Homo sapiens: one gene and its partners. The protein of the gene in region 1 interacts with the protein of each later gene in a pairwise test. Each region holds a gene or a part of one and is shown in the gene's direction. Other genes may lie near its edges. The genes, in order: LRP6, CKLF, DAB2 and ANTXR1.

Region 1 (7,036 bases):
TTTTTTTTAAGAGAGTCACAAATGCTGGCTTTTATAATAATAAAATACAGCCTCAGGCTTTGGCAGTATTCTAAGGAGGAATTACCCACCAAAGTGACTGGTTTCAAAATAGTTTGATATTCTAAGAATGAAATATTGGGATAAGATTGGTTCATAGAATTGAGAGTTTAAAACAGCAACATACTCAGAGCACAGAATTTTAGAAAAGTTGAGAGAAATGTAAGTTCAGCCATTGCTTGCATATGCTATTACAATTTGGAGTGAAAGATTTCTCATGTAGTTGCATGGAATAAAGAAAGATTGAAATAAATAAAGTGTATTTGTAAGCCAAAAAAGAGAAAATTATTCCTTTTTGCTAATTTATGAGTCTATAAAGTGTGTTGAGCAGGTCAAGTACTGTTGTGTCAGCTTCCACTTCTATGTTCCTTGAAAGGCCAACAGACCATCAGTAGCTTGAGAGTTTCTATCTACACACTGAAGTGCCCAGGGTTCATGGGCATCCCTCAAGTGCCTGTTATCTTCTAGATAATCTTTTCTATCTTCTATCCTCTCTAGATAATCTTCTATTATCTTTCCTAGCATTTCAGTCAAATTGGCCTGATACGACCTCACCCATGTGTAGAAATGAAGTGGAAACCACTTAAAGTATCTCACTCAGAATTCTCATTTCAGCTTAGATAAGACTGAAATAGCCTTGGCTGTGAACTGATTGTTTTAATGATATGTTGTAATGTTGCTTTCCCTGCCACAAGTTTCTTCTTCTAGGAAGCCAAAACAGAAAAAGCAGAAGCCTGAAAATTGAGAAAGGAGAAAGATACAAAATTTTATTTTTTAAAAGTAATGTCCTTAATTCAAATTGACTAAGGCACTCATCAGAATAAACACGATTGCATAAAAAACTATTCTTGCTTAACTATTTTCCGTATAAGCCCAATTTCTGTTTCCTCTGAGTCAAAACTTACATCATTTGTTGAGATTTTGGTTTAAACTGGGACATGAAAAAATTTTATTAATTCAGTTTGTTTTCTTTTTTTTTTTTCATGAAAATAGAAGTATTTGGACTTTTAAATGTTGACCTTAGAAATTTCACCAAGGATTGACACCTGATTGGACAAAGAGTTAAACAAAACAAACTGTGACATCATGTCAGTATTGATAGTAAAAGCCTTTGAGAACTCACTCAGTGGGTCATATAACTTTTGGTCTCTGGCAGCCTTGCACCCTTTTTATTTTTATTTTTATTTTTTTTGAGACAGGGTCTTGCTCTGTCACCCAGGCTGGAGTGCAGGGGCACAATCACAGCTTACTGCAGTCTCCACCTCCCGGGCTCAAGCAGTCCTCCTGCTTCAGCCACCCAAGTAGCTGGGACTACAGGTGTGTGTCACCACGCCTGGCTAGCTTTTTTTTATTTTTTGTAGAGACGGGGTCTTGCTATGGTGCCCAGGCTGGTTTCTTTCTTTCTTTCTTTTTTAAAGACTAATCAAATGCAGTAGTAAGAAGGGGAGACAGAGTAGAACAAGGAATTTGATCTGTGACTGTGAACAATCTGGCAGCCATTTCTTTTGAAGCAAGCCAAGTGATATCAAATGGTTTGTATCCTGGGTTCCTGGGATATATTACCTGGTGGTGCTCTGTATCACTAGGTGTTTTATGAATCGTTGTATCAGTTTTTAACTTGGTTTTCCCCTTCTCTTGTAGTCACTTTGATGAGAAAGCTTATGAAAAAATCTTTGGGATAAATTTAAGATCAGCTTTACCATATTTAGAATAAACAGGTATAAGAAGTTAAAAATAGAAGTAGGAATGACAGAAAAGCCAGAACTTAGGTCAGATCTTATTTTCACTAGTATGTTTCTCTCTTTCCAATGCCTTTTTCTTTAGTTAGCAGTGCTACAAACCTAACAACTGTATGTCACTTGTAAAGATAAACAAGTGTAAGAAATAAACTAGGCCTCTGAAATATACATTAGAAAATTCACTGACCCTTTATGGGCATTTAAATTTTATCATTTTGATGTTTAAAGCTGCTCTTATGAGAGGTACTTACCTATACACAGGGAATGAAAACCGTTTCCCCCAATCACAGCAATTTCCCTTTGCTAAGATAACAACAATGGAATAGTTATGCCCCTGAGGCTGTCTACCAAAATCCAGCCTGGACTGTACAGAAATTGTACAGAATTGTACAGAAGAAAGAAATGAAGACTTCAGATGTCATTAAATTAATTATTCATCAGGTTAATTTTGGAGTAAAGAATGTTGAGGGAATGCTGACATGTTTGAGTAGTGTAAAATATGTAAAAACCCATTCTTCCCATGGGCTATGAAACTGCAGAACAAATTTGAATAGTCATTTTTTATTCTGTGATACAGTTTAACTTGAAGATGTAAGAGCACAACCAGAGGCTAGATTGAATTCACCTCTGCATTCCCATCCTGTTCATTTTCACTTGCCACTTTCTTATTTGCAAATAAGAAAGTACCTGCTATTTTCCTCAGCGAATCTGCCATTGAAAATTGCCTCTTGGTCTGTGTAAATTTAAATTGCAGTAGCTTATTGTTTTCATAGGGTAGTTGACATCTAATACCTCTATTCTGAGAGGGGAAATCATTTTTTTTTGTAAAACTAACTGCTTCTCTTTATTTTCTCCCTATACCAGCTACAGGCCATATAGCTACCGGCACTTTGCACCCCCCACCACACCCTGCAGCACAGATGTTTGTGACAGTGACTATGCTCCTAGTCGGAGAATGACCTCAGTGGCAACAGCCAAGGGCTATACCAGTGACTTGAACTATGATTCAGAACCTGTGCCCCCACCTCCCACACCCCGAAGCCAATACTTGTCAGCAGAGGAGAACTATGAAAGCTGCCCACCTTCTCCATACACAGAGAGGAGCTATTCTCATCACCTCTACCCACCGCCACCCTCTCCCTGTACAGACTCCTCCTGAGGAGGGGCCCTCCTCCTCTGACTGCCTCCAACGTAAAAATGTAAATATAAATTTGGTTGAGATCTGGAGGGGGGGAGGGAGCTATTAGAGAAGGATGAGGCAGACCATGTACAGTTAAAATTATAAAATGGGGTAGGGAATACTGGAGATATTTGTACAGAAGAAAAGGATATTTATATATTTTCTTAAAACAGCAGATTTGCTGCTTGTGCCATAAAAGTTTGTATAAAAAAAATTTGTACTAAAAGTTTTATTTTTGCAAACTAAATACACAAAGCATGCCTTAAACCCAGTGAAGCAACTGAGTACAAAGGAAACAGGAATAATAAAGGCATCACTGACCAGGAATATCTGGGCTTTATTGATACCAAAAATAAAAAAGAGGAAGAAGAAAAATTAAGTCCATCTCAGAGCAGCAAACCATAGATACATGGATGTAGCCAGATAGCCTTCAGTTAACTAACATTTGAGGGCCAACAAGTAAGAAATGATGAAAGGAAAAAAATGCAATTAATACTAACCTTGGACGAAGGGCTTTGTTTTCTCTAGGAATCCAACAGTGCTAGTGAGGAAAGTAGATATTTCTAAAAACCCATTCTGGGTGTTGCTGTTGTAGGAGAGATCAGCCCTCTGGTAAGATGCCATGAAGCTGTGTGTGTGTGCAAGTCTCTGTCCCTACCTTTAGAATCCATACCTCTGTCAAAATGAATTTTTTTCTCTAGGTATGTTTACCTTGCTGCCTCCTCCAGCAACTTGGTAAGTCATTTTGCTAAGATACCATGATTTTTTTAAGCTGAAGCATTGACTAAATGGAATTTTCTAAATTAAACTTGATTTTAATATTTCTTCTAGCTCCATTCCCCAGTAGGCTTAGCTCTTCAATTTGACTGCTGTTTTTGCATAATGATCAAAAGTTAGACATATTATTTCTCTTCTTCCAAGATTGTTTTAATGCTCATTAAAATGTCTTTTTACAACACATATAGACAATGTTTAAGAATTAAAAATTTAACCATTATGTTTTTGTTGTAAATCTCATATCCTTGCACTACTTTCAGCATATATCACAGTACGAAATCATTTATATATATATATATATATATATATATATATATATATATATATATATATATATTTTGTTTGTTTGTTTGTTTTCTGAGTAAAACATTTAAATATGTTCTGGTTAGAGACAATCTATTTAAAAAGATTTTTTTCTTATTAGGATTTTCCCTATATTAACAGTTTGTGATGTTTTCATGTTCTTTAGACCGGTTTTTCTCAGAATAATGTCTACATACATACCTCTTCTAATGTGTGACATGAATTTAATATCTTTCTGTTACCCACTGTGAATGTTAGGCTGTTTTCAAATTATCCACAAATTATTCTTGTAATCACCCAATATTTTTATGTGGGTCCTCTCTTACCCATTATGGATTAAGATAGTTTAACAAATTTAACAATGAGGATTAAATGAGAAGGCAAACTGTTAACTTCTCAGCTGTCAGAATTTGGGTGGAAGGGAATAATGGAAGCCTCTTTTGTGATCTGCCTGACCTGCTGTCATGTATGGTACTGGGGCTGCTACATCTTGAGCTATCAGGGCTGACCTGTGGAATGATTCTAGCACTTGCTCTGCCACCTTGCCAGAAGTTCGTTTCCTGCTTTTTACACATGTGTAGCACTTCTCTGCTAAAATTGAATGGTTTTAAACTAATGTATTTTTAGCTTAAGAGGTGTTGGTCAGTTAATTATTGAATTTTTTTTTTTTCTTTTTTAATTCTGTCTTGCCAAGGCCTCTCTGGGTTTCAGGGCCCAAGAGAAAACAGTGGAAGAAAGGATTCAGAATTTGGGCAAGGGTGAAGTAACTGTTCATGCAAGTTAAAAATACCTAAGTAAAGTTTTTGAAGATAAAATTGTGGTTTCAGAATAATGCTGATTGTTGGAGACTGTAAGAATCAGGTGCACTTGATTTTGCATATAAGCAAATGGTAAATCTATCAGAATCCTAAAACAGACAAGCATGAACTCTTCCCATTGCTGGAACTAAGTGCCCACAGTGTCAGACAAAATGGACATTGAACTTGGATTCTGTGATACACAGGGCACTTGATGCTTAAATGAAGATGGAAAGGTTAGCAATACCTGGGTGTCAGTTAGAATTTGAGAATTCTATATGTTTACATATTTAAATGTGCATCTTGATCTGGTGGGCTTCCCATGTGGAGACTTGCACTCTAATTAACTAAGAAGAATATTGCCTTGTTGGATCTCAGTCCACGTGCTTGCACTGCGATGGCAATGGCCTCTTCTTCAAAATACTAATTTGTGTGCCAATTTGTTTAAAATTATTTGAAGGCAGTTCAGCCTAATCTCAGTGTTCTCTTTCTGGGGTAGATGAGATGGATTCTTAATATTTCTGGGAGTACTTTTTAATGAGAGAATTGTCAAATTTGGAAAGATTTATTGAGCCTTAGGTTACATGGACAGTTAAGCTTAAGTAAACTGTATATTGATTATCAAACACAAGCTGTAATTGGAAAAGTTGAGAGGAAAAGCATGAGATCACAAATTAGGGGGAAAAAAGAAAAGGGATTTTTAAATTTGGTGTATTAAATTCATTGTCCAAGGGGGAAAATGAATAATGTTTCATTAGATTCCTTATATGCAAAAGTATTTATTTTGAACATGTGTCCTAAAATATATGCACTAACTGATGTGATTAAAATTGTCCAAGAAATAAACTTGAGCATAACATACTTTGTGTGCACCACAGTAAGCTATTCTGCATTGAAGTGGTCTTTTATAACTAAGGCCTGGACTTTGCTCCAACAGAGTCGTGGTCTTCTGAATAGTGACTTAAGGAGTTTTGTTTGCTTAAGTCAGATAATAGCACATTCACAGGGAAACAAAGAGAGTTGGTGGATAGAATTTTCTGACTATTAATTTTTCTTCCATGAAATTTTATTATGCCTTTGGCACTTTCTGCCACTCTTACAGCATATCACAAGATATCTGTTTAGCAGAAGATTATGTAGTTACTTTAATTTTAATATAAAAGTAGCTTGTGATACATTACCAAGAGATCTCTGATTCTTTAGTAAGTTTGAGAACACCTATTCTACAGAGATGATAGGTACTTAGAAATGAAGACTTTAAAGTACATTTTAATCTAATATAGGCCAGTAATTGGGGGAAGGGGCTTTGAGCAGTACAATTTTAAGATGATTTTGAGGGTTGTATTTCTTTATCATTTAAAAATATCCTAAAGTCAGTAATTTATATGAAGGAAACTCATTCATTATTGAAGGTATTAAAAATAGCCATCATCTGTATTAGGTAGCAGTTTTGGAGGATCATCTTTTTCTTTTGCTATAAAGCCCTATTAATGAAGAATACTTCCAGTAGAGTTAATAGCTGTAGCTTACCTAGTGTGTTAATGAAGTGTGTTTATTTATGTGACTTGATACCAGTAGTCATAATAGAGACTGAAGAGGTATGCGTTAAGCACGCCTACTTCTATGCAGTAAACAGGCTGCAGCTGCCTAGATTAGATTCTTAGAAATGTCATATTTTGAATTGTTTTATTTCTTGTAGGGGAAGCTTTGTCCCACTTCATTCATTTGCATGCCATAGGAATTACATATTGGTTATCATTACGTATCTAACAAGATTCAGAAACAAAAATCTTGGACTTTTCACATCCGAAATATGTCAGCTCTTAATAAATGTGTGGTGCTTAAGTCTACATATGGCATCCATAGTTGATTTAGAGTATGGATATGAGTGTGTTGACCAGTTATCAGTAGGTGGACAAATATTTGGGCATCTACAGATGAGACTATGCACTAAGTGTGGACTGAGTCCTAAAGAAGCTTATAGTCAGGTGTTGTTTAAAACATTATCAGAATTCTTAAACCCAAGGAATTTAATTTTATTTGGTATTTCTTAAGCCTAAAATGAACCAAGAGAAAGATGATTTTAGAAAGTACTTGTAGTGAAAGATGATTTTAGAAAGTACTTGTAGTGCATGTGTGGCTTCTGACTTTTGGGATGGCACCATTTTATAATAGTTTCAAAA
Region 2 (4,029 bases), on another chromosome or scaffold:
AAAAAAGAAATAAAAAGCTTTTTAAGTAAATGATTGGCATATCACAGGTAAAAGAAAACCACTAGGTGTCATTATAGACCAGATACTATCTAGGTATCATTTTACTGTGACATTTTGGTTTCCTGAAAGATAGATGCTAAATAAATTTGTTTAATAAAATGAAACTTTCAAAATATTTAGGAAGCTGACTCCTTTTGTTGCAACAGAGTCTCACTCTGTTGCCCAGGCTGTAGTGCAGTGGCATGATCTCAGTTCACTGTAACCTCTGCCTCCCGGGTTCAAGCAATTTTTGTGCCTCAGCCTCCCGAGTAGCTGGGATTACAGGCATGCACCACCATGTCTGGCTAATTTTTGTTTTTTTTAGTAGAGACGGGGTTTCACCATGTCGGCCAGGCTGGTCTCAAACTCCAGGCTTCAAGTGATCTGTCTGCCTTCCAAAGTGCTGGGATTACAGGCGGGAGCCAGTGCATTCTGCCTGCTGACTTTGTTTTTTGTTGTTGTTGTTTTTTTGTTTTTTGTTTTTCCTTTTTAGCATTGCTTGGTAGTCTTCATGTAAGGCTCAGCTTTATTGTGTGTTTTTAGGATATTATCAACTCACTGGTAACAACAGTATTCATGCTCATCGTATCTGTGTTGGCACTGATACCAGAAACCACAACATTGACAGTTGGTGGAGGGGTAAGTGGAAGTCTTTCTGCTTGCTTTCTTCAGGTTTTATCAGAATGCAAATTTACTTGGAAAACAGATGTAAGAATAGAAAGCTATACTATATTCATCCTTGAGATTCCTAGGCCAATATACAATGCCTAGTGGCTTAATATTTTTGTCTGTGAATGCTTGCCCTGATTAACATGAAGGAGTATGATTTTATACTAGAAGCAGAATTAACCCAATAAAGGGGTTCCTACAGATTTCTTATAGGTACGTAGGGCTAGACTAGACTGACAAAAGCTACTGGAATCAGTTACAGCACTTAGCTCTGAGAAACCTGATGTCAAGCAAAACAAAACAAAAGGATGGATGAGTTTCATAGCTCTCCCTTTTACAGAAAAGGATACATACCATTTGTTAAGATGAGACAGACTGTTTTGAGCTCAGTTATTTCTTGTTCAGATCCTTCAGATAGAATATAATAGATGATGTCCTTACGGTAAGAGAACATTGGCAGGGCACCTTGCAACTAAAGGATCATTTTGAACCCGGCTTGAAGAGAAGCAGATCAATTCCATCAGACCTCATCCTAGAAAGCAAGCCAGAATATGACTCAAGTAATTTAGTTATAGTTCTATCTGATATTCTTCTAAGATTTCTCATACAAGGTTCAAAATCATTTAGCTTTTCTAGGTTCTGACCTAGAGAATTGAATTAGAAAGTTCTTAAATAAATCTTCCTACTTCCATGTTCTTTCATAGTATGGGTCACTTAGGAGAACTCTCAGCCATATATGTCAGAAGCCATGATTTTCATCTCCCTTAGGCCCTGAGCAACTTCATGAGGAGTCAGAATTATTCTAGAAATGAGATAGCTCTGTATCAATTTCCCCCAGTTGTTTTTGAAGATAATACTCATCTTTCTACTGTGAAGAAGGAAGGACCAGGCATAGGATTTACTTTCATTCACTTTTTTACTCATTCATTCATTTACTCATTTCTTAAGTGTACTTTGGCAGGGGCTGACAAAATATAGAGCTGTGCTATTCAGTATAGTAACCATAGTTGCTAGCCACATGGGGCTACTGAGCACTGGAAATGTGGCTAGTCTGAATCAAGATCAGCTGTAAGTATAAAAATACACATTTAATTTCAAAGATTTATTACCCCCAACAAGGAATGTAGAATATTTTGTTAATAACTTTGTTGATTACATGTTAAATGATAATATTTTAGACATACTGAGCTAAATATATTAAAATCTATGACTTATTTTTTTCTTTTTTTTTTTTTTCTGAGACAGAGTCTGTCTCTGTCGCCCAGGCTGGTGGAGTGCAGTGGTGCTATCTCAGCTCACTGCAAGCTCTGCCTCCCGGGTTCACGCCATTCTCCTGCCTCAGCCTCCCAAGTAGCTGGGACTACAGGCATCCGCCACCATGCCTGGCTAATTTTTTGTATTTTTAGTAGAGACGGAGTTTCACCGTGTTAACAAGGATGGTCTCGATCTTCCGACGTCGTGATCCGCCTGCCTCGGTCTCCCAAAGTGCTGGGATTACAGGCGTGAGCCACCGCGCCCGGCCGACTTTTTTCTTTACATTTATAATGTGGCTGTTAAAAAATCTTTAATTATGTGGCTGTGTTACACTGGTGACTCATATTATGCTGCTTTCAGACAGCACTGACTAGAGTGTGAGCCCCGTCCTCAAGTTGCTTAGAGCTTAACACAGGAGACACAAGTGGAAACCGCTGTATATAAGCTGTTGACAGGGAGCTGCATGGTGCAGAAAAGAGGAAACTACCTCTCTGGCAGTGGAATTGCTGTTTGCTGAGAATAAAGGAAAAAAAATGGAAAAGGTTCCAGGTAGAGGAGCCAATAGTGTACAGAGTGCCAGTCATGAAAAGATTGGTAGGAGGTATTCAGTGTGGTCAGAACCTAGGAGGCAGTGGCTTGAGACTCTGGGTGGAAAAGGAGACTGTGAGAGCCATGTCTGGAGCCAGGAAGCCAAACTTCCTGATGACTGGAAGAAGCTGACCAAACAGCATGCAAGGAATGACATCCCCCTCTCCCACCCCAGGCACCAGCTCTCAGATAGCCATCAGAGTGTCTGAAGGCCCCCACGTGTTCTTAGTTATTGTTTTTATCTAATTTTACTTTCTTAAGGTCTATTTAGAATCTCACCCTTTAAGCAGATGTAGCCTAGCCTTTGAGAGTTCACTTTGGATCATCTTATTAACTCCAGTTTTCTGGAGCTACAGTCCCCATGATTTAATATTGAGCTGGTGTTAACTTTGACCTTTTCTTCTGTAGAGTTTGTCAGTAGAGAAGTCAGAGTTGAACACTGGGGTTAGAAATATTAATAACTAAATATCCTCAGTAGGGCTTAAAAGAATACATGCAAGAGCAGGTCAAGAGATAAAAGCAAACAAGTATGGATTTCAGAGCCCACACTGCTTTATTATTTTTCTGCTCACTTAAATTATCTTTTCTCTTTCTATAGGCAAGTATTTAGAAAACTTAGCAATGAGGAGAATAAGATGATCTCTGAAGTCTCTCCATGTTAGTATTAGATGAAGCACAGGGAGCAATCCGAGTACCCTAGCAAGAGAGGAATCTGGTGGGCAGACCACTTAAAACTTGTGTGAATGACAGGAGTGGGGACCATGGTTAGGGCAGTGACACTTGTCTTTCTTTCCAGGTGTTTGCACTTGTGACAGCAGTATGCTGTCTTGCCGACGGGGCCCTTATTTACCGGAAGCTTCTGTTCAATCCCAGCGGTCCTTACCAGAAAAAGCCTGTGCATGAAAAAAAAGAAGTTTTGTAATTTTATATTACTTTTTAGTTTGATACTAAGTATTAAACATATTTCTGTATTCTTCCACATATTTTCTGCAGTTATTTTAACTCAGTATAGGAGCTAGAGGAAGAGATTTCCGAAGTCTGCACCCCGCGCAGAGCACTACTGTAACTTCCAAGGGAGCGCTGGGAGCAGCGGGATCGGGTTTTCCGGCACCCGGGCCTGGGTGGCAGGGAAGAATGTGCCGGGATCCGCCTCAGGGATCTTTGAATCTCTTTACTGCCTGGCTGGCCGGCAGCTCCGAGGTGTGGGGTTGCAGAGATTTTGAGTTCTCGGGCTAGGCGGTGGCATTGCACCCCCTGTGGCAATGAGGGTGGCTGAAGGGCTCGGCTTGTCGGTGGGGCAGCGAGAGCCGGGTGCACGCGCCGGGGAGGTAGCCAACAGCCGTTGGGACGCGACGCTGGTTCCCAGGGGAGAGCCAGCCGCTGCCGCGGCACTGGTTCAGACGGCCAGGCCCTAGGGACCCACCATGGATCCTGAACACGCCAAACCTGAGTCATCCGAGGCACCTTCAGGGAACTTGA
Region 3 (7,036 bases), on another chromosome or scaffold:
AATATTTAACAAGTCAGCCTGAAAATACAGCTGGACCCTATAACTGTTTATTTATTCAGACGAAGTGAAGCTTTTTGGCTAGGTGCCCCTGTTGAGGGCTTGGGGTATACAACTGCAGAATACTGATGATTGTTCCAAGTTTGGACATGGGACTCAAACTGAGCTCTACAGTATAGTCCCTGTCCACTAGCAGGGATCCTCAGCCAAACCATGGAAGGTTGTAGGTCTGGCTTCCGCTAGACCCAGCTGGGGGACTGTCTCCCCTGGAGAACTGGGGGGGTGGGGAGAGGGTATTGTAGAAAGCTGAGCCCTCAGATTCAACTTGCTTGTATTTTAATCTAGCCTCAGAAGGTAATAAAATTAATGTTCTATACCCATGTCCCCTTTTTCCTTATTCCTTGCCCCTACTTTGTCAATGTGTTCAATGTGTTCAATGTGTTAAAACACAATGTGGGGATTTGGTGGGTAGGAATGAAGACTGGTATAAGTATATACTGGGAAAGCCTTGAATTCCTGGCAAATGTAATATTTTTCTCTCCTTTTTTTTTTTTTTTTTTTTTGAGACAGAGTCTCACTCTGTCACCCAGGCTGGAGTGCAGTGGTGCTGTCTCAGCTCACTGCAACCTCTGCCTCCCAAGTTTAAGTGCCTCAGCCTCTCTAGTAGCTGGGATTACAGGCATGCGCCACCACACCCAGCTAATTTTTGTATGTTAGTAGAGACAGGGTTTCGCCACGTTGGCCAGGTTGGTTCTGAACTCCTGGCCTCAAGTGGTCCTCCCACTTTGGCTTCCCAAAGTGCTGGGATTACAGGTGTAAGCCACTGCGCCCAGCCCTAATATTTTTCTCTTTTACAAATACCATTCTCACTAATATGATATTTTCCTAAATGAAGACAAGTTGTCCAACATGAAAGATGATAAAATTCTACCCTCCTTTTTGCACAGCTAACTGGTGGAAATTATTAGCAAGTGATCTGGCTTCTGTTAATACAATTTAATTGAATGTGTTTTAAAATACAAGCAACAACTTTGTTCAAACTAAACCCATTTTTAGAGCCTGTATTGTAGAATATAACTTTTCTCTTGATTTGTTATGAAAGGAGTATATTCTTCAGTGAAAATGAAGTCTAATTTCTGTATCCGTGAAATAAGTATTTGAATTAACATAGCATTTGAAAATTAAAATTGCCCCATGCCTTGCTGCCAAGGAAGCAGAACAGGAGAATGGGGTGCCGGATTTAGAGCCAGTGTGCCTGATTTTCAGTTTCTACCATCCCAGACTATGACCTTCCCAATTTTAATGAATATTCTTGCACCCAGTTTCCTCACCTCCAAAAAGCATGCTGATTAAGTGAAATGGCCTGTTCTGAAACCCACCACTCTCTGTGAGTACACCATGTGTGCCCATGGCCAGATGGCCAGCATGCATGATGAGAATGGAGTCAGGTAATACCAATGTCTCAGACTAAGAAGCTCGAAGATATAATCTTGTGCTCCATCACTCCTAAATACCATTTTCAAAGTATTCCCTCTTGGAAACATAAACGTCCCTAACCCAGGTCTGAAGAAAACTTTCATAACTAAAGAATGCCATGCACCAAAGCTCAAAGCAAGTAGATTTCAAGAGCGAAGCATCACCCACTAATAGATATGAGGCTGAATTTAGGTTTCCTTCTTAGCGGTGAGTTTAACTGAATCATTAATGCACTTGGAAAGAGGCAGGAAAGACAGTGCCCTGTATATTAGAACAAGATGCAGGGAGCGAGCCTCTCAAGAATCAGAGGCCATCATTGGAGAGGCCTGGATTCTGGCGATTTAACGAATTCCTGATGACATAGCAAGGTCGTAGGAGATGGAGCCATTCACCACAAAGATCAGATGCCCCAACACAGGCCATTAGTTACCTTGAAAGATTTTTGTTTCCCATTGTCCTCTCTCCTCTTTTAAATTCTCTGTTCTAACTTCTGGCAAGGTTTAGCAAATGGCACATGGCAGGAAGCACTTTTATTTGAAACAGTCTTCCTAGGATAACATCCTTTCTTCCATTTTTATATATAAACGTCTAAAACTATCTTGGCATTGGCCAAACTTTATCTTCCCTTTATGTATATAGCTGTATCAGTCTTGGCAGCAATAAAAAGTGAAGAAACTTTGAAATGGTTTCTTCAGGATGCAAGCATGTTGAGGTCTTGTGCACATGTGTGATTGCTGGTTTCCATAAGACTCCAGACGTGAGCCAGTTGCCAAATGAAAAGATCAAATCTGTGACTCAGAGAGTCCAATGGATTATCTTAATTAACTACATCATAATCAGCATGGTTCATGCATAAAAATATATTCACTTAAATAAGTTCCTGCTATTAACAGGCTCTGTTCTAGTTGTTTGAGATGTATCAGACAACTAGTGTCTGTATGATAAGGGCTTATTTTTTTGATGAGTAGATACTTATGGACCGTACTACCCTTCTAATCAGGAAAGTTAAAAAGACATGGTAGGAAGAACATGGGCCTCAAAATGCAACCAGCATTTGAATGCTCACTATACAGTGTTAGCTGGCTAACTTTTACAGTGATTAATCTGTCATATTCTTCCCATATCAGCCTCAGGGCTCAATGGAGGTGTTAGCTGTGGAGAGGCTTTCCAGAGAGTTGTGCTCTCTGAAATTCAAGAATCTTCTTCAAGCTTGACTCCTGATAAGTATTTTTCTTCCTCTTACTTCAGGTGGTGTAACTGTCACACTCCCTCAGGCAGGACCATGGAACACAGCATCTTTGGTCTTCAATCAGTCCCCTTCAATGGCTCCGGGAGCCATGATGGGTGGTCAACCTTCAGGTTTTAGTCAGCCCGTCATTTTTGGTACAAGTCCAGCTGTTTCAGGTTGGAACCAGCCTTCACCCTTTGCAGCCTCAACTCCCCCTCCAGTGCCTGTTGTCTGGGGCCCTTCTGCATCTGTGGCACCCAATGCTTGGTCAACAACAAGCCCTTTGGGGAATCCTTTTCAGAGCAATATTTTTCCAGCTCCTGCTGTGTCCACTCAGCCCCCATCCATGCACTCCTCTCTCCTGGTCACTCCTCCTCAGCCACCTCCCAGAGCTGGCCCTCCCAAGGACATCTCCAGTGATGCCTTCACTGCCTTAGACCCACTTGGGGATAAAGAGATCAAGGATGTGAAAGAAATGTTTAAGGATTTCCAACTGCGGCAGCCACCTGCTGTGCCCGCGCGGAAGGGAGAGCAGACTTCTTCTGGGACTTTGAGTGCCTTTGCCAGTTATTTCAACAGCAAGGTTGGCATTCCTCAGGAGAATGCAGACCATGATGACTTTGATGCTAATCAACTATTGAACAAGATCAATGGTAAGCCACTCACCACTCTGCCTACTGTTCCAACAACTATCTCCACTGCCACATGGACCTAAATGAGTTCCCCAAATGAACCCTCTCCCACCCGCCAACAGCTTTGCTCTTGCTTCTGTTGGTAATCAAGGGTTACGGAGACAACTTAACCATTTACCTTTTGGTGATAACTATTTACCTTAGTCATTTCTGAGGACTGACCCAATGCTGCCCTCTAGTGATAAATCTTAAAAGGGCTGCCATGAGCTATTGAAATGTGATGACTGGTGACTCTTGGAGGGCTGTGTAATAAGGCGTCATCCATGTCCCATCAGCTTAAAATGAGGGGATTCTGAATCTCTTCCACTTCAGATAAATATGCATGGCTTTCTCTTCCGAGAAGGATAATAATTATTGGGGTACCTAGTATTTGGTGTTGATTTTTGTTCCACTGATGTAAATTTCAAAAGTATAGAACTAAACTTCAAAAATAAGCTGACTCGGGGACTGGCCTATATTTGGGGAAAGCTTGTCTACTGATTGCCTGGATTTTTTACCTTCTAGAACCACCAAAGCCAGCTCCCAGACAAGTTTCCCTGCCAGTTACCAAATCTACTGACAATGCATTTGAGAACCCTTTCTTTAAAGATTCTTTTGGTTCATCACAAGCCTCTGTAAGTATGAACTACTAGAAGCTCTTCTCCAAAGTACATGCCACATAGAGCTCCAGCCTCCTGAATTAACCTTGCTTTTATAATAGCTTTTATTTATTTATTTATTTTTTTAAGACAGAGTCTTGCTCTGTCGGCCAGGCTGGAGTGCAGTGGTGCAATCTCAGCTCACTGCAACCTCCACTTCCTGAGTTCAAAGGATTCTCCTGCCTCAGCCTCCTGAGTAGGTGGGACTATAGGCACGTGCCACCACACCTGGCTAATTTTTGTATTTTTTTGTAGAGATGGGGTCTCGCCATGTTGGCCAGACTGGTCTCAAACTCCTGACCTTAAGTGATCCATCTGCCTTGGCCTCCCTCAGTGCTGGGATTACAGTCATGAGCCACCGCACCTGGCTATAATAGCTTTTTGATGGTAAAACATGTTTAGCTAAGATTTGTCACCAAGAACCTTCACAGTATAAACATTCATTTAAACTGGAGAAAGATTATTTGCACAAGAACTATTATCTTCTGAATTTGAGAAATAATATCACATAGAAAACATCCTTCATATCTCACTTAACCTGACCCATGAAAGCATTTCGGGAGAAAATTGAGCCAAAATACTGTCTTGAAAACCTTTCAAAAATTTAAGTTCTTAATTTTCCAACAATATTTCTATAGCCTGTGAAAATAATACTTCCCATTTCGGGGAGGCAAATGAAATGCATCTGAACCTTGATTTTCACATAAATAATATACACTGCCATCTGCAAGCAGATGAAAACAAAACACTGTAAGCCCCATATAATGTTTGATTGGCTGATTGGCCTATGACCTAAGCGATTTTTAAAAGAATTTTGGAAGTCTTCATTGCGATTTTTTTCTTATGACTGTAACTGTATTTATTGACTAGATGATTTTATCTTCTTAGGTGGCTTCTTCTCAACCTGTATCTTCTGAGATGTATAGGGATCCATTTGGAAATCCTTTTGCCTAAATTCTGTAAGTAGAAGATCCTAATAAGCCTGTCTCAGGGGTTTTTGTGAGAAAGGGTGACATGGAATAAAGAGTGAAATTTTAATTTTAGAATTGGGAAGAGGGTAAATATCTATAATTTAGGAGTAATCGACAGGAAAATCTCTACTGAGATCATTCAATAATGACTAGGCTGGGCACTTAAGAATAGAATTCCTAAACACATCAAAAAATAGTAATATACCCTTGGGGATGTGGATTTTTATCTTATTCCATGTTCTTGGTTTTTCAGTTCTGTGTGGGAAGTAAAACTCAAAACAACACATCACAGGTTTCTAACCTTTTTACTTTCATATTGAAGTGGTTGCAAAACAACCTAGTAATAATTTGGTTTCCTATAAAGGGTTCAGATTCCATTGACTTTCTGAAGCCACCAAGTCAGCAAAACAGATTATGATCATTACTTCTCTACCATTTAACTGTGAGCAATCTCAAAGTTAGTCTGAAAGAGTCTGATGGTATTAAATCTGAAAGTTTTAACAACTATTAAAGATCTCCTTCATAGGCAGTAGGAGCTCAAAATGAGTCTGAAGGTTGATTCTTCTGTCTCATGAACTTTATCTTAGATAAGTGATTAGGTAGAATCACCCTCAGCTGAAATCCTGGGAGGGCTCAGTGTAACTCTTTCTCTACAGAAGGTGACAGCAACTTTATTCTGATCTCAAAAGACTGAATTTAGTAGGGAAAGGAACGCTCTCCCCATTTTAGAGCAGGTAGGCCAGCTGGTAGGGGTAGAACAATAGAAATAATGAAAAACAACAACAACAACAACAAAAACCAAGCCCATTTTTTTTCCAATCTTGTCTCATCCAAACAGGACTACTAAACTGTGATTTGGCTCATCTAGAATGTAATTATTTTTAATAGATAGATATCTTAAACGTGGCGAAAACAATAAGATTGAGCTTATAGGCATCTGGATCATTTTCCCTCAACTCCAGTTCTACAATGACTGTGTTTCCTGTAGTACCTTTCCATAAACTGCTTCAGAGAACTGGGTAAATCATTAAAAATGCAAATTCCTGGGTCCTACTGCAGCCCTAAGGAATTTCTCTTTGGTGCCAAGGAAATGCTTCCTTTTAACAAGAGTGCAGGTGATTCTAAAGGTAATAAAGCAGTAAGTAGATATTTAAGAGCTAGAAGTCTTACCAGAGATCATTCTCACCTTCCATTCAAGGGGAGATATACCCAAACCAATAGAAGGAGTAAACTACACTCAGAGTCAAGATGGATTGTATGGACTAAATTGAATGAACTAGACTTCTCTTTGGAGGTCCTTCCTTCTTTAGGTCATGAAGGAAGGATAGTTTAGGTCAACCTGCTACATCAATAGATTGGGTAAGGGGAACTCTCATGGGATAAAATAACTAACATTGTTGAGCACTTGCGCTAAGCATTTTATTAGATGCTCTACATTTATCATCTTCATCAATCCTCACATCAGCCCTAGGAGATACTATTACTGACATCTTTAATAATGACTTGATATTTAATACATTGATATTCAGTTCAAAAATTCTAACCACAAGTTTCTTTCTTCTCCATACCTCTCTAGGAACTTGGTCTGCAGACCATCCAGAGGAATAAAAAGGTTGGCCTTAGTAGTCAAAAACAAAGCTGATAGCCAGACACGTTCTGATTTCTGCCCTTGTTCCAGCTTTGACGTATTATCTGTTGCCTTATTTCTCATTGCCTCTTCTACTTGTAAAATGCTTTTCACTTTCTGTCTAGGTTAAAGCTAAACTGAATCTATGGCTTTAAATAAATTAAGATCCTAAACTCTCTAGCTTAAGTGTAAATGAAGTACAGTAGTTTCCCTACTGAACCCTGCCTCTTGTGTCCCTGGAACCTTCTAGAACACCTGCCTTCTACCCTCTGGTTGGGAGATGCAGCCACCACATCCCTTCATATCATACTGTTTTGAATAAATTTTCAAATCCTTATTGTTCAGAGTTGTTTGGGGGTTCTGTTTCAGAGCATAAAACCTAAAGGTTATAGTAGAACAAGGCACCT
Region 4 (7,036 bases), on another chromosome or scaffold:
CTGCAGGGAAAAATCAGAGCTTTCTAAGACATCTTGCTGCACCTCGGAGCTCCGGTGTGTGAGCAGTACTTGTTGAGTGCCAACTTGAATGTTGGGCTCTTTAGAGCAACACTAGGCTCCACAGGAGAAGCCCTTGAGGGTGCCTCAGAGGTGCTCACCAACCAGTTAAGGAGCAATGTTTCTAATGGGAAACATTTAGAGTAGGGTTCCACATGGCAAATTATATTCCTCATTGAACAAATATTTGTGGAGGGCATAGGGTGGACCAAGCTGGACATCTTGCAAGAAAAGAGTAAGACATCAATTGAAAGCCATAAGCACGCACCAGATCCCAAAGGGCTGTGTATGCCAGTGGAGGTGTTTGGCTTTTATTTTAAAGGTGATGGGGAATCACTGAAGAATTTTGAGCTGGAGAGTGAATTGACCAGACTTAGGTTCGGGAACAATCGTTTGACTATGTCAAGAGCTGCTGGATTGTGGTCAAGTGCTACACTGTGTGATGCTATCTACAAGTCTTTCAAGAAATCATTTGCACTTTTAGTCTATATTCAGGAATACAGTATAAAGAGGATGAGTTCCTGAGGCAAACAGAGCTGGGTTTTAATCCCACTCTGCCACTTACTGGCTGTGTAGTCTCGAGCAAGTTATTTAAATAGGTGTGAGACTTTAGTTTTTTTTCTGTACAATGAAAATACTGATACATAACTGACAGAGTTTTGATGATAAGTAAAGACACTAATGTACCTGGACGTTTCAAATAGTCCTCCCACCACCATTAGATACACCCAAATCAAAATGGCACTTTCAAGCCTAGGAGGAAGGCCAGCTGGCATCCTAAGCCTTCATTTAGCTGGAGATATTGTTGCATTTTCTTCTTAGAATTTAATCTGAGAAATTTTTGCTAATGTGTGAAAATAATTGGCATTCATTCCTGTAAATGAGGATGCTGAGGTAAACTGAGGTCAAAGCCAAATCTTGGATCGGAATCAAACCACCCAAAACCAATACTGTGGAAAATAAAACTGGGTCACAAAGACCAGTGTTATGAAGCGAGAGTTCCAATCGTCCTAGCAACCTTTTAACCAAACACTGGTGCAGATTTGCTGGCCTACATGACGGTGAGAACATCTGGCCTTTCTATTATCCTCTTGCAAGCAAAAAACGATGTTGTGTAAACTGATCTTTAGGCCAATTATATGGTCTAAATGTTACCGTGTTTATGCTGGCACCTCTGACTCCAGGTTTTAAGAACTTATTGTAACCACACCCCTCTTACAAAGACTGTGGGTCTTACTGTATATTACCCCAGGGATTTATTGATGCCGAGTCTGCACCTTTTTTCAGGAAGATAAATTCAACATCAGTCAAATTGTGTGCAGTGCACTGTGGGAGGTCCTATAAGAAATAAGTTACAGGACTTGGTGGCAACAGGAGGAGAGAACAAACATAAGAGTGCAGGCTCTAGGGGCTGCTTTGTTTTTCCCTACAATTTTGCTACATTTTTTCCTATTTACCAGTTGTATTATAGAAGCCAGATGTGGAGTATAGAAGCTCTAGTCTGCAGCTCACTCAGAAGACACTAAACTAGGAGTTGGAACACCTGATACCACCTCCAACTGGCCTTTCCACCACAGACAGGGTCTGATTGTGTCTGCGCATCCCCACCTGCAGAGAGACAGCATTAGACTACTAAACACAATGCGCCAGGCACTGTTCCAAGCCCTTCATAACACTGATTAAGGGAGTCCTCCTAATACCTGTAAGTGACAGGCGGTATGATTACCCCCACTTCACATCACACTGTGGGGTGTCCCACAGTGGGGGCCACGCAGAAGCTCTGAGCTTGCCCCTCCCCTCTGGCTGCTCGATGAGAGCTCTGGGCTTTTGTGCTCAGCTCTAAAGGACCAGGTGGTGGGGAGTGAGGGGAGGGTCTATAATGAACCACAGCACAATGCTCTGGATTAGGTGACCCATGGGCGTACCCCTAGGGTGTTACTGACCAGAGGAAGGAGGACTCTTTGCCTCCACCATCACCATTTTACCCCACCCCATCTCCATCCCTCTGCTGCTCTGGCCAAGACACCACGGCGGCAGCTGGAAGTGCTGACCTCAGGTCTTCCTCCCCACCTCACTCCCCCACAGCCCCCACTGCCCTCTTTCATCCCATCTTCAGGGGACAGATGTGAGAGACCATCTTTTAGTCTGTGGATGCTTTCAACTTTTTTGAAAACCCCTGGGAATCCTAACATGGATTATGAACAGAGATATTGGCAGAAGAAGGCTGGGAGCTCCCGATTTTGTCTCTGGACAAAACAGCCTCTGGTAAAAACAGTAGAGTGACTTATTTCAATTGAAGAGAATAAGTACATGAGCTTCCGGATTCATTAATTAATTAGCCTCCCCTCTCGGCCAGCCTGGTGGCCAGCTCTAGAAGACATCTGAAGCCAGATGAGCACTCAACCCCAGGCACCAGCAGCTCCTTCCCCAGGATGAGGGTTTCCCTTCATCTTTCAAGGACATGAATCTCTTGAGCCTCTCTGTCTGACTTTGCATGTCTAGGAACGAAGGGCAGAACAGATAGCACAGTAAATCCCAGCTCTAAATTGTCGTCATGGGAATTCATCACAGATGGTAATCATTAGGGCCCTCACATCTTAAAGGAAAGCTTTATCCAGAATCATAAATAAACTGTAACCAAGGCTTAGATTTATAAAGCTATAAAAGAGGGCAGCTTGAACAGCCGGGAATGTACAGTACTGGGTTACAAAATCGGCATCATGCCTGAAAGGCTGGACATAAACCCGGGAGCTCTGGGCAGTGCAGCGAGGAGGGGGTAAATTCTTTCTGCAGTGGGTGGAACCCCAGTCACAGCCTCCCCGGCTTAGCACCTGGTTTAATCACATGAAATGCAAGCTCAGAGAAACAGGGGTGCTGGCATCTAAACATAGCATTGCAACTCCTAAACCAATTGCAGTCCCATCAAGTTTGGCCCTTCCTCACCAAGATGCCCTCTGACTAATGCTATGTCCTAGGAATTAATTTTCACTTTATTGCTAAGGTTTCCCACCCCCTACTTTTCCTGAGTGGCTCAAACAACTCCGTTTTTACCAAAAGTCCCTGTACCATGCAGAACACCCTGTGAGGCTGTGAGTTGTGGAGCAGCAAAGCACAAAACAAGGCTGCAGCCTTCCAGAAGTTTCTTGTCTGGCCAGGGAGGCAAGGCATTTACAGATGAAACAACTGTAGTATGCAGGCTGCAATGTGTGGTGTAGGCTGTAACTAGAGAACTCAAGGAAGCAAAGGGTAAGTGGAGGCTGGAGTCACTGTGGGGGAAATGTTTGGGGGAAAAGGGACATGATTTATGACTTGAAGGATGCACAGGGCTGTGCACAAGGAGGGAAGGTTTGCTCAGCATGTGGCTTGTCCCTTCTGTGGCCCATCCTGAGCCAAGTCTCTAATAGCACACTCTCATTTTCCTCTTGTCCTAGAGCTAATTTAAGCAGCAATTGTTCCCCAAATTCCACACCTCACCCTCTTCATTCTCATTCAAGCTCATCCCTAAAAGGCCTGGAAAGGGAAACTCTGTGCTCTCTGGACATATCTCGTTCAGGCTGGACACCACAGGATAACTTCCATCCTGGAGCATGTGGCCAGGAACAATTCCACACCCCAGCCCCAGGCCCAGCATAGAGGGCAGCCTCAGAGAGGAGCAACCCCACCTCAGCCGCTGTGGGGAGCAATTCTGTAGGCATCCAGACATGCCAGAGAGAGAACAATAAGATACCCCACAGGCATGGGAAGTGAGGGAGGCCAGGAGCCCTCAGAGGGGTGGGTACCCACCCAGGCAAGTGGCCAAGCGAAGAGAGCTCACGCCAGCATGGAACATGGTGAGCAGGAGAACCCCTGTCTCCCCTCCGTTGCAGAGCTGAGTGTTGCACAGAAGTTCCTGAGTACCAGATGAGACTAGTGGGTATCTACTGGGGGACAGAGAAAGCATGCCTGTGACTCTGGAGAGCAGAGCAGATACTATAGGGGAGACAGGGCTACTTAAGGCTGGCTTTGGACGCTGACTTTCAGGAGGCTGCTTTAAGGGGTTCCAGGGTCTTCTCTGCATTGTTCAGTTGAGTACCCAAGAAGGGTAGGAGAAAAGCAGAATTCAGGGCAGATGCCTGCTTGGCAATAGAATGTCCCCAGGTTGTATTTCTTAAGGTACACAGGTTGTCAGTTCCTGTGACAACAACTAAGGCTACCTGCACAGGTGCAGCCGCGTGTAGAAGAGGGATTCCCACAGCCAGAACAAGGGCAGGACAAACTGTTTATTATTTACTAGCACTTTGGAGAAGGCAAGGCGTGGATGAGGAAGCTGTATTGATCACATCAGTAGAGATAGCTGCCTCCTTCATTCATTACCGGGAACAAGTGTTTGAGGGGGCACAGACGAGGTAAATGCATCAGGGCCTCCATGACAACTCCAATCACAGAATCTAGCTACATCCTTGAATTACAATATAGGAGAAGCTCGTGGTGTTAACCTTCTGCCATTTCCAGGCATGTAACTGAACTAATCAAAATAAATTACTTTTGTTTATGAAATATGAGGATCCCTTCCAGAAGGCAAAGTAGCAGCAGGAAGAATAATTCTGGAGTCTATTTTGGGTTAGAATCACCAACCCCATCTCTTCCTAGTTGTGTGGCCTTGAAAAAGTAACTCCGCTTTTCTGAACCTCTGCTTCCTCATCTGTGCAGTGGAACAGCTAATAATACCCGGTTAGCAGGGCTGTTGAGGAGATTCAGTTTAATGACCTCTGTACACAGCACCCAGTTAAGGTCAGTCTCATTCCCTTTCTCCCACTTGAGAGAGTTAGACTCCAGGAAAAGATGAATTTTAACAGTTTTGCAACACAGTCCAGGAAAAGGAAGTGGGGAGCTCACTTGTCCTCAAGTTCTACTATGTGCCACTAGAGAGTTGTCACCAACAGGGGCCAGCTTTCCACATATTGCTTGCAAGCCGCCCACCACAGCACCACAGGCCCTGATGTGAGGCCGTCCGCTCACGTTTCCTTCTCTCCAATTCTTTTCTAGGGGCGCTGCATCAACTTCACCAGGGTCAAGAACAACCAGCCAGCCAAGTACCCACTCAACAACGCCTACCACACCTCCTCGCCGCCTCCTGCCCCCATCTACACTCCCCCACCTCCTGCGCCCCACTGCCCTCCCCCGCCCCCCAGCGCCCCTACCCCTCCCATCCCGTCCCCACCTTCCACCCTTCCCCCTCCTCCCCAGGCTCCACCTCCCAACAGGGCACCTCCTCCCTCCCGCCCTCCTCCAAGGCCTTCTGTCTAGAGCCCAAAGTTCCTGCTCTGGGCTCTCTCAGAAACTTCAGGAGATGTTAGAACAAGTCTTTCCAGTTAGAGAAGAGGAGTGGTGATAAAGCCCACTGACCTTCACACATTCTAAAAATTGGTTGGCAATGCCAGTATACCAACAATCATGATCAGCTGAAAGAAACAGATATTTTAAATTGCCAGAAAACAAATGATGAGGCAACTACAGTCAGATTTATAGCCAGCCATCTATCACCTCTAGAAGGTTCCAGAGACAGTGAAACTGCAAGATGCTCTCAACAGGATTATGTCTCATGGAGACCAGTAAGAAAATCATTTATCTGAAGGTGAAATGCAGAGTTGGATAAGAAATACATTGCTGGGTTTCTAAAATGCTGCCTTCCTGCCTCTACTCCACCTCCATCCCTGGACTTTGGACCCTTGGCCTAGGAGCCTAAGGACCTTCACCCCTGTGCACCACCCAAGAAAGAGGAAAACTTTGCCTACAACTTTGGAAATGCTGGGGTCCCTGGTGTGGTAAGAAACTCAACATCAGACGGGTATGCAGAAGGATGTTCTTCTGGGATTTGCAGGTACATAAAAAATGTATGGCATCTTTTCCTTGCAAATTCTTCCAGTTTCCAAGTGAGAAGGGGAGCAGGTGTTTACTGATGGAAAAGGTATGTTGCTATGTTGATGTGTAAGTGAAATCAGTTGTGTGCAATAGACAGGGGCGTATTCATGGGAGCATCAGCCAGTTTCTAAAACCCACAGGCCATCAGCAGCTAGAGGTGGCTGGCTTTGGCCAGACATGGACCCTAAATCAACAGACAATGGCATTGTCGAAGAGCAACCTGTTAATGAATCATGTTAAAAATCAAGGTTTGGCTTCAGTTTAAATCACTTGAGGTATGAAGTTTATCCTGTTTTCCAGAGATAAACATAAGTTGATCTTCCCAAAATACCATCATTAGGACCTATCACACAATATCACTAGTTTTTTTTGTTTGTTTGTTTTTTGTTTTTTTTCTTGGTAAAGCCATGCACCACAGACTTCTGGGCAGAGCTGAGAGACAATGGTCCTGACATAATAAGGATCTTTGATTAACCCCCATAAGGCATGTGTGTGTATACAAATATACTTCTCTTTGGCTTTTCGACATAGAACCTCAGCTGTTAACCAAGGGGAAATACATCAGATCTGCAACACAGAAATGCTCTGCCTGAAATTTCCACCATGCCTAGGACTCACCCCATTTATCCAGGTCTTTCTGGATCTGTTTAATCAATAAGCCCTATAATCACTTGCTAAACACTGGGCTTCATCACCCAGGGATAAAAACAGAGATCATTGTCTTGGACCTCCTGCATCAGCCTATTCAAAATTATCTCTCTCTCTAGCTTTCCACAAATCCTAAAATTCCTGTCCCAAGCCACCCAAATTCTCAGATCTTTTCTGGAACAAGGCAGAATATAAAATAAATATACATTTAGTGGCTTGGGCTATGGTCTCCAAAGATCCTTCAAAAATACATCAAGCCAGCTTCATTCACTCACTTTACTTAGAACAGAGATATAAGGGCCTGGGATGCATTTATTTTATCAATACCAATTTTTGTGGCCATGGCAGACATTGCTAATCAATCACAGCACTATTTCCTATTAAGCCCACTGATTTCTTCACAATCCTTCTCAAATTACAATTCCAAAGA

The links.
Region 2: the proteins of LRP6 (region 1) and CKLF interact in binary tests that used the Homo sapiens proteins (3 or more experiments, as listed by UniProt).
Region 3: the proteins of LRP6 (region 1) and DAB2 interact in binary tests that used the Homo sapiens proteins (3 or more experiments, as listed by UniProt).
Region 4: the proteins of LRP6 (region 1) and ANTXR1 interact in binary tests that used the Homo sapiens proteins (3 or more experiments, as listed by UniProt).

What each region holds. Positions count from the first base shown.
Region 1 is NC_000012.12:12,117,045-12,124,080, reverse strand, and holds part of LRP6 (low-density lipoprotein receptor-related protein 6 isoform b precursor), read left to right. Parts: intron 1-752; coding exon of another isoform or gene 753-802; exon of another isoform or gene 803-899; intron 900-1,475; coding exon of another isoform or gene 1,476-1,566; exon of another isoform or gene 1,567-1,589; intron 1,590-2,660; coding exon 2,661-2,955; 3' UTR 2,956-7,036. UniProt on the Homo sapiens protein: Component of the Wnt-Fzd-LRP5-LRP6 complex that triggers beta-catenin signaling through inducing aggregation of receptor-ligand complexes into ribosome-sized signalosomes.
Region 2 is NC_000016.10:66,562,540-66,566,568, forward strand, and holds the end of CKLF (chemokine-like factor), read left to right. Parts: intron 1-582; coding exon 583-678; intron 679-3,346; coding exon 3,347-3,472; 3' UTR 3,473-3,529; downstream 3,530-4,029. Other genes in the region: CMTM1 (CKLF-like MARVEL transmembrane domain-containing protein 1), read left to right, coding at 3,975-4,029. UniProt on the Homo sapiens protein: May play an important role in inflammation and regeneration of skeletal muscle. Essential for embryonic development.
Region 3 is NC_000005.10:39,372,968-39,380,003, reverse strand, and holds part of DAB2 (disabled homolog 2), read left to right. Parts: intron 1-2,721; coding exon 2,722-3,354; intron 3,355-3,897; coding exon 3,898-4,007; intron 4,008-4,919; coding exon 4,920-4,985; 3' UTR 4,986-4,990; intron 4,991-6,578; 3' UTR 6,579-7,036. UniProt on the Homo sapiens protein: Adapter protein that functions as a clathrin-associated sorting protein (CLASP) required for clathrin-mediated endocytosis of selected cargo proteins.
Region 4 is NC_000002.12:69,240,143-69,247,178, forward strand, and holds part of ANTXR1 (anthrax toxin receptor 1 isoform 1 precursor), read left to right. Parts: intron 1-5,082; coding exon 5,083-5,343; 3' UTR 5,344-7,036. UniProt on the Homo sapiens protein: Plays a role in cell attachment and migration. Interacts with extracellular matrix proteins and with the actin cytoskeleton and thereby plays an important role in normal extracellular matrix (ECM) homeostasis.